3 separate regions of the Homo sapiens genome follow, and regions 2 and 3 are each linked to region 1. Evidence: fine-mapped expression QTL. A gene starts in region 1. Each other region holds a variant in brackets. All regions are shown on one strand. Distances are from middle to middle. Region 1 holds the start of NBDY (negative regulator of P-body association). Region 2 has its middle 25 kb from the start of FAAH2. Region 3 holds the start of SPIN2B (spindlin family member 2B).

The links. PIP is the estimated chance that this variant, and not a neighbour inherited with it, causes the effect.
Region 2: its variant is fine-mapped to the expression of NBDY in whole blood (TOPMed, PIP above 0.99).
Region 3: its variant is fine-mapped to the expression of NBDY in whole blood (TOPMed, PIP above 0.99).

Annotation. Positions count from the first base shown.
Region 1 is chrX:56,728,174-56,730,943 of GRCh38, forward strand. NBDY (negative regulator of P-body association) reads left to right here and starts at 1,070. Exons shown (of 3, transcript NM_001348129.2): 1 at 1,070-1,416. The coding sequence starts at 1,181. The coding sequence ends at 1,387. RefSeq lists an enhancer at 1,111-1,190.
Region 2 is chrX:57,259,995-57,262,764 of GRCh38, forward strand. It overlaps a transcript of FAAH2 not described here. Among named protein-coding and RNA genes, the nearest start is that of FAAH2, 25 kb to the right of the region's middle. The variant G/A (reference allele first, on the strand shown) is at 1,491.
Region 3 is chrX:57,121,034-57,123,803 of GRCh38, forward strand. SPIN2B (spindlin family member 2B) reads right to left here and starts at 515. Exons shown (of 2, transcript NM_001006681.2): 1 at 205-515. It also overlaps a transcript of FAAH2 not described here. RefSeq lists a silencer at 683-802. The variant G/A (reference allele first, on the strand shown) is at 1,269.

The DNA of each region.
Region 1 (2,770 bases):
AGGTAGAAGGGTGGAGATAAGAGATAGTTATAGTAGTAAATGCTTTACATGTATTATCCCTGGTTATGGAAACACCTTTGCAAGGAAAAAATTATGGCCTAGAAACCAAAGTTCCAAGAATTTAAATAATTACTCAAAGAGCTCAGAGCTTGTAAACAGCAGAGTTTAACAGGCACTTCTACTCTGGCATTAAGGACTAAGCTCTCTCCATTTAAAAAAACAAAAAACAAACAAAAAGCACTGAGAACAAAGCTGAAGAAGTGTGATCTAGTTTGTCCATAGCTAAAGGGAGATGGATGTGTAGGCTATTTTAATAATGAAGGTCTAAGAAGTTCCAGAAGCCTTTTCTTCTGAGACACGTGGTACTTTCTTCTGGTTACCATAAATCATAGAATATAACATATCATCACTAGTAAGATGGGTCATTATTTTCCATACCTACAAGAAAGAAAAAAAAAAGCTGCCAACTAAAGTATAGTGTACCATCAATTGTTAGGTCGCAGAGATTTCCTAGATATTCAAATTTGGGGAAAAACATAATAAGCCTTCAAAAATTACAAATTTGCTTAAAAAATAAAGAAAAAATGATCTTAGATTCTATGACATACGGTGAATTCATTTTCCACATTCAATTTCCATGGTTTGTGCTAGTGTGCTATTCTGCACTCTAGTCAACTTACATGTTTGCATATTGCTTTTTAAATGTTTGTAGCTAGTTTCACAGCTCTGTGATGTGCATCTGCAGCTGGCTTGTAAAGCTCTTCAATAATTTATTTGGTTACCGCCCACCCCCGCGTCCCTCCCACACATATAAGCCATTCAGAGTTTACCACTTAAAGGTAAACTTGAATTTCTTCTCATCTTAAAATTGCATAAATTATATTAAATTCTCAATAAATTTATTTACATTTAGTGGGGGTGGGGCGCGATGGAAAAACACTATATTAAATAACGACATCGGTTTTTAACACCCATCCTAATAGAAACATTAAAATAGAATGGGGTAGGGAGGAGGGGTGGAGGCGGAGAAGGGATGTACGTCTCAGGATACAGGAAATACGGTAAGAGCGAAACAGGAGGAAGCCAGCTCTGTGCCTGGAGGGGACTCGCCGCCATCTCAGGTCTCTTGGCTTTGCCAGGGCCCACCGGAGAAAACTGACGACCCGTTTCTGTAATCCTTATGGGAGACCAACCTTGTGCCTCCGGGAGATCCACTCTCCCACCTGGAAACGCACGGGAAGCCAAGCCTCCAAAAAAGCGCTGCCTCCTCGCTCCGCGTTGGGATTATCCGGAAGGAACTCCCAACGGAGGTAGTACCACTCTACCCTCCGCACCTCCTCCTGCATCAGCCGGCCTGAAGTCGCACCCTCCTCCTCCGGAGAAGTAGAGAAATAAATTTCTCCCACCCTAAACCAGGTCAGATTCTTTCTCATCTAGGACATCTAGGCTCTTTGAAACTTATTTATGCATTCTCACAAATTTCCTTCCCCTTTTCCCTGTTCTTTCCATGATTTCAAAATAGAAAAAATAACATGCAGGGATTAAGCAGCTCTTTCACAAAATATGCTTGAATGAAATGATGGATATTTAACGACATTAAATAATTATTTGTAATATTTTAGATGAAATAATTGTAGTTATATTTTCTAAGAAATAGACTTGAATCTTTTGATTTGCTTGAAAGTAAGTCATTGGTGCCAAGGTGGAGGGAAAGTGTAATAAAAATGCTCATGAGTTGATAATTTAAAGCTGGGTGATGTATATGTAGGGATTTATTATATTATTCTCTCTACTTTTGCGTGCATTGGAAAATTTTTTTGTTAAAAAAAAAAAGGCTGGTTCAAGGCCAATAAAAAGCATCTGTTGAAGGCCAGCCTTCAGAAGTGTATGTCTTTCTCTGTGTAAGGCAGGAGAGTTGAATTTTTTTTTTTAAAGCTACAATGTGATAGTCAAATCCAAGTGCCATAATGTTTGCTTGTTCAAGGTATTCAGGAAGGGTGGAGGATGGACCAAGTCACTGCCTGGTAGTAATCATGAGCCATCAAAAAGGAGGAGTAGGGGGGCGGACGCGGTGGCTCACGCCTATTATCCTAGCACTTTGGGATGCCGAGGTGAGCAGATCAGGTCAGGAGTTCGAGACCAGCGTGGCCAACACGGTGAAACCCCGTCTCTACTAAAGTTACAAAAATTAGCCAGGCGTGATGGTGGACGCCTGTAATCTCAGCAACTCGGGAGGCTAAGGCAGGACAATCATTTGAACCTGGAAGGCAGAGGTTGCAGTGAGCCGAGATCGCGCCATTGCTCTCCAGCCTGGGCGACAATAGCAAAAAACTACGTCTCAAAAAAAAAAAAAAAAAAAAAAAAAAAAAAAAAGGAAGGAGGAACTTTGGGTGGGCCTTAAAGGTTGAGTGACATCTGCCATGTGGAGGGGCAGGGAATGCTTTTCAGGCCGAGGGTTTCCAGAGAAAAGGCAGAATTCTTCTGGAAACAGCTTGGCTATAATTTTGAATCTACAAGAAGGACTAGGAGGTGAAGATAAAGTGCTTCAGGGCCTTAAATGTTATGCTGAGCATATACTTCATTCCAATATCCATCAAGTGCTACTATTTGTATTTTAAGATTCCTATTCTTACTATCAGAAAAGGAATCTCTGATATTTAGATGAACTTTATAGAATGCAAATTATAAAACTGAATCTGACCCAAGTTTTATAGATCCTTTTAATTCAAAGGAGAGAAGCATCTTTTCTTCATTCGTGCAGTAAACCTTT
Region 2 (2,770 bases), 530 kb after region 1:
TAATTTGTTTATATTAGTATTTGCAGAGTAAACACATGAATAATATAAATATATGTAGTGTAATATAACTTCAAACAATCATTGATATGTTTAAGGATTTTCCTAGCATTTTTTACTTTAAAAACCCTTCAAAATAATTTTGAAAGAAGAAAACGCAGTTGAAAAACTATTACCTTATGTCAAGACCTATTATAAAGCCATAGTAATCAATACAGCAGAGTATCCTTGTAATGAAAGACATTCAGATGAATGAAACAGAAAATAGAGTTCAGAAATAGACCCATGCATATAAGGGCAAATGCTTTTTCACCAAGGTACCAAGACAATTTAATTTAAATGGTAATATTTTCAACAAAATGTGCCAAAATAATTGCATTAAAAATGAATCTTGATCCTAAACATACATCAGCTACAAAACTTAACTTGAACTGAGTTATTGAGCTAAAAACTATCAAAAGTGTAGAAGAAACGATAGTAAAATTTTTTGGGATCTTAGGTTTGGCAAAGATTTCTTAAACAGAACAAAATTAAGCACAAATTATAAAACAAAAGATCAATATATTGGAGTTCATCAAAATTAAATGATTTGCTCTTGAAAACACAGTGATGTAAATGAGAAAATGGCAAAACATGTATTTAGCAAAATACTTCATATCAAGAATCTACAAAAAATCTTAGAAGTCAGTAATAATAAGTCAAGAATTAGAAATGAGTGAAAAATTTAAACAAACACTAGGGATCAAAGGATATGTGTGTGTGTGTGTGTATATATATATGAATGGTAAATAAGTGTATAAAATATGTTTAGTATCATTAGTCATCAGAAAAGTGCAAATTAAAATTTTAATATGATAATATATCACACTCACAAGGCGGCTAAAAAGTAAAAAATGACAACCACAAGTGTTGGTGAGAATGTAGTGCAACTAGAAATTTCATACACTGCTGTTGGGAATATAAATTGCTAAAACAGTTTTAAAACTATTTTAGTAGCTATGTACAAAATTAAACATACATCTACCATAAAACCCAATCTTCTAGATGTTTTTCTAAAATATAATAAAGCTTTTGTTTATACAAAGACTTGTATTAAATAATTATAAAATTACACTTGTAATTATAAAAACGTGAAGCCACACAAATGTCCATCAACAGAGAAATAATCAATAAATTTTCGTAGACCCATGCAGTGGGATTCTAATGAGCAATTAAAGGGCACATATTATAGATACATTAAACAACATGGATAAATCTAAAAAACAATTTTGTGGAGTGAAAAAATCTATATTTGGCCAGATCTGTAATCCCAGCTCTTTGTTAGGGCAAGGCGGGTGGATCATCTGAGGTCAGGAGTTTGAGAACAGCCTGGCCATCATGGTGAAACCCTGTCTCTACTAAAAATACAAAAATTAGCTGGGCATGGTGGTGCGTTCCTGTAATCCCAGCTACTCAGGAGTCTGAGGCAGGAGAACCACTTGAACCCAGGAGGC[G/A]GAGGTTGCAGTGAGCAGAGACTGTGCCATTGCACTCTAGCCTGGGCAACAGAGCGAGACTCTGTCTCAAAAAAAAAAAAAAAAAAAAAAAGAAAAAAATAAGAAAAAATCTATATTTATACAGAATTCCAGAAAATCAAAACGAATATAAAGTGAAACAAATCAGATTAATTGTTGCCAGGGATGGGAGGTGGAATATACGGAACATGAAAAAAATTGTGGGTGGTTATGAATATATTTGTTATCTTGATGTGTTTACCTTAAAGTAAATCACTCTGAGTTCAATGTGAAAGATAAGTTTAAAGGTAATGAGTTAGGAAGCAGGAATATTAGTTATGAGATTAATTCATAATTAAGATGAGAAATAACAAAGGCTTAACTAAGGCATTGCTGGTGATGTTGCAAGAAAGAAATTAGAATAAAATATGGAAATTAGGAAACATCAATTTCATTAAATGAGTATATGTGGATGCTGAAAGAGAAGAATTAAGTATGACATCTGTATTTATTGTTTACGTGACTTGGTGTCATCAACTGAGTCAAATAATATAGGATATGACATTTTAACTTATTGGAAATGGAATATATATATATATACTTTTCTTTACTCCTGCTACTAAATGCAACTAAAAATCTCAGGCATTGTATCTAAAACAAACATAAAAAGACTCCTAAAGGTGAAGAGAAGGTGGCAGACCAGCTCGGACTCTCAGGACCTGAGTAATGACACATTGGTGAGTATACTGGTGTGTTGTTTTGCCTCATATATTCTAACTTGGAACTGAATAAACTGAAAACTCAGATATGTGCTTCAAAACACACTTGAAATAAATGAAACTATAAAATTTCTCTGCAAAGATAGGGAAGATAATTATATCAATAATTGTATTATTAGATTAATTGTTATAAGTGAGAGAAGGTAAAGACATTCACCCAATATAAAATAAATTATTTGAATAACCCTATAATTTAAGAGTTAATTATATTCATGAATTAAAAATTGTTCCCCAAGGAAATCTCCAAACTCAGATAGTGTCAATGGAGAATTATACCAAAGGTTTAAAAAAGAAATAACACCAAATTCAAGTCTCTTTCAGAAAATGGAAGAGAACACTTTCTAACTAATTGTATGAAGGTAGTATTACTCTGATAACAAATCTAAATAAAGATAGTCTAATGAGGAAATCTCAGACTAATAGCTCTAATTAATTTGGATTTAAAACTTCTAACACAATATTAGTAAATACAATTTAGCAATATATTAAAATAATTATACACTA
Region 3 (2,770 bases), 390 kb after region 1:
CCTAACCACTTCTCTGGTACCCACCGCCCTTGCTTCCCGGCGCTCACCTTCAAATCCTTGTCTGGCTCCCGTTCCTACCCCCTTTTCATGTTGCTCACCGCACTCCCCCACCCCACCCTTGCCTGGCGCCCAACTCCACCCCATGTCTCCTGCTGGATTCCTTCCCATCCCCCTCTCCATTCTGGCGCCCACTAATGGCCTTGCCCTGCCTGGCGTCCACCGCCGGGGATCGCGGGCCTCACGTGCCCAAATCGGACACCTCGCTGCTGCCTCCGCTACGAGCCTGTGGCGAAGGAGGGTCAGCAGGCGACCGGCCGAGTGAATGCTTGCAAGAGCGGGGAGGGTAGGATCCGTAGATGAGGAGCGTGTCTAGGAGGGCGGCGAGACAGGCAAAGAGGAAGGCAGCGGCGTCCCCACCGCTTGGCTCGCTAGCCCTCCGCCTCCCTGCTGGCGGTGGCGGCCCCTCAGCCACATCGGGATTCCACCAGTCCCTGCTGTCGCCGCGGCAGTCTCCTCCCTCTTTCCGTAGCGCAGCTTCCTGCCCAGAGAGAGGCCTCCTCTTCCTGTCAAACACCCGGCTCTCCTCTCCACCAGGCTCCCACGCCCACCACACAGCCTGTAGCCCCGGCGGAGCTATGGGCTCTGACTCCGCCTCTTTCCAAATCCGGAGTAGTTCGTGCCACAGTCGTCCTCGGAACCCTGTGGCCCCTTCCTCACCCGTTTCAGGGCCACTTGGTTCCCACCTCCACCTTCTTAGTCTGCCTGCCCTGCTTTCCATCTTCTTGGAATTCGCCTTGCTGCCGCCCCGCGCCCACCCCCGCGCCCACCCCTGCCCCTGCACCGTCCCATGCCCTTATGGATTTATTCTTTACACGTAAATATGTCTTTCCTCTTTTTGAAAGGATTTGGAGTTGGAACAGAGAAATTCACTATGGTAAGTCTGCCATTTTGACCCAGTCTCTACCTAATTTTTGCTGACTGATATTTCCTGGCATTTTTGTTTTTGTTTTCGAGGGATTTTTTTTTCCTTTTCTTTATTGCAAGATAATTGCATGTACAACGTGAACACTATCTACATTTTAGGAAATTAATATTAAGAGGAAAATCATCAACTGCAGTCCCATCTCCCATTTTTGAGGGCCTCACAGCAAAATATTAATGCTCATAGTTTTTTTTCCTTTTTCCTAAACTTTTGCAAAACTGGGATTTGTTTTTTATCTGCAATTCATGTCTATTAATTTTTCCAGGAAATTAGATGTTTTCTAATC[G/A]ATTTTTTCATTCAACAAATATTTATTGAGCACCTGTTACATATCTTGCACTTGGTCCGTAAAACTCAATTTTAAAGTGATTTATAATTTGGCTTTTCTCCCAGTACTGGGCATTTGACATAATATTTCCACAATAACCAGTAATCAGATCTATGTATCGGAATAGAAAGCTTTGCAAAAAAATAACTTTATAAGAAATAATTAAAGTTATAGTTTTATAAATCAGTGGAGAAACGTTGGGTATTCTTTAAGGAATGTTGAAATAATTATTTAAATATTTTGAGAAAGGTTGTATACTAATGTTGTACCAGTATCAATATTTGATTTATTAAAAGGTAAAAAGCAGCAAAATAAAATTGAACAGAAAGCAAATGAACCAACCAAAAACTCTGTAAACAAAACAATGCTTAATGGTATCTTTCTTATTCAGATACTTATGGTATTTGAATGAGGGGATGAGTCGGATGTTAACAGAACAACTACACTTAATAAAATAACATCTACAAGGAAAAATAGAAGTAATAATAATCTCGATTCAACAGTCAAAGTATGAAAGAACATTAAAATATTACTTAATGTCATTGATCATGAAAAAGCTTCATATCTAGTGCTGATGCAAGTGAAAGTTTATACAATTTTTATGGAAAGCAATTTGCAGATATGTCATAGTTTCAGTGAGGGCTTTTTATTTTATTTTCATTTTTATTTTTTTAAATTATATTTTAAGTTCTAGGGTACATGTGCACAATGTGCAGGTTAGTTACATGTGTATACGTGTGCCATGTTGGTGTGCTGCACCCATTAACTCCTCATTTACATTAGGTATATCTCCTAATGCTATCCCTCTCCCCTACCCCCACCTCACAAGAGGCCCCATTGTGTGATGTTCCCCTTCCTGTGTCCATGTGTTCTCATTGTTCAATTCCCACCTATGAGTGAGAACATGCGGTGTTTGGTTTTTTGTCCTTGCGATAGTTTGCTGAGAATGATGGTTTCCAGCTTCATCCATGTCCCTACAAAGGACACGGACTCATCATTTTTTATGGCTGCATAGTATTCCATGGTGTATATGTGCCACATTTTCTTAATCCAGTCTATCATTGTTGGACATTTGGGTTGGTTCCAAGTCTTTGCTATTTTGAATAGTGCCGCAATAAACGTATGTGTGCATGTGTCTTTATAGCAGCATGACTTATAATCCTTTGGGTATATACCCAGTAATGGGATGGCTCGGTCAAATGGTATTTCTAATTCTAGAACCCTGAGGAATCGCCACGCTGACTTCCACAATGGTTCAACTAGTTTACAGTCCCACCAACAGTGTAAAAGTGTTCCTATTTCTCTACATCCTCTCCAGCACCTGTTGTTTCCTTACTTTTTAATGATCGCCATTCTAACAGGTGTGAGATGGTATCTCATTGTGGTTTTGATTTGCATTTCTCTGATGGCCAGTGATGAAGAGCATTTATTCATGTGTCTGTTGGCTGCATAAATGTCTTCTT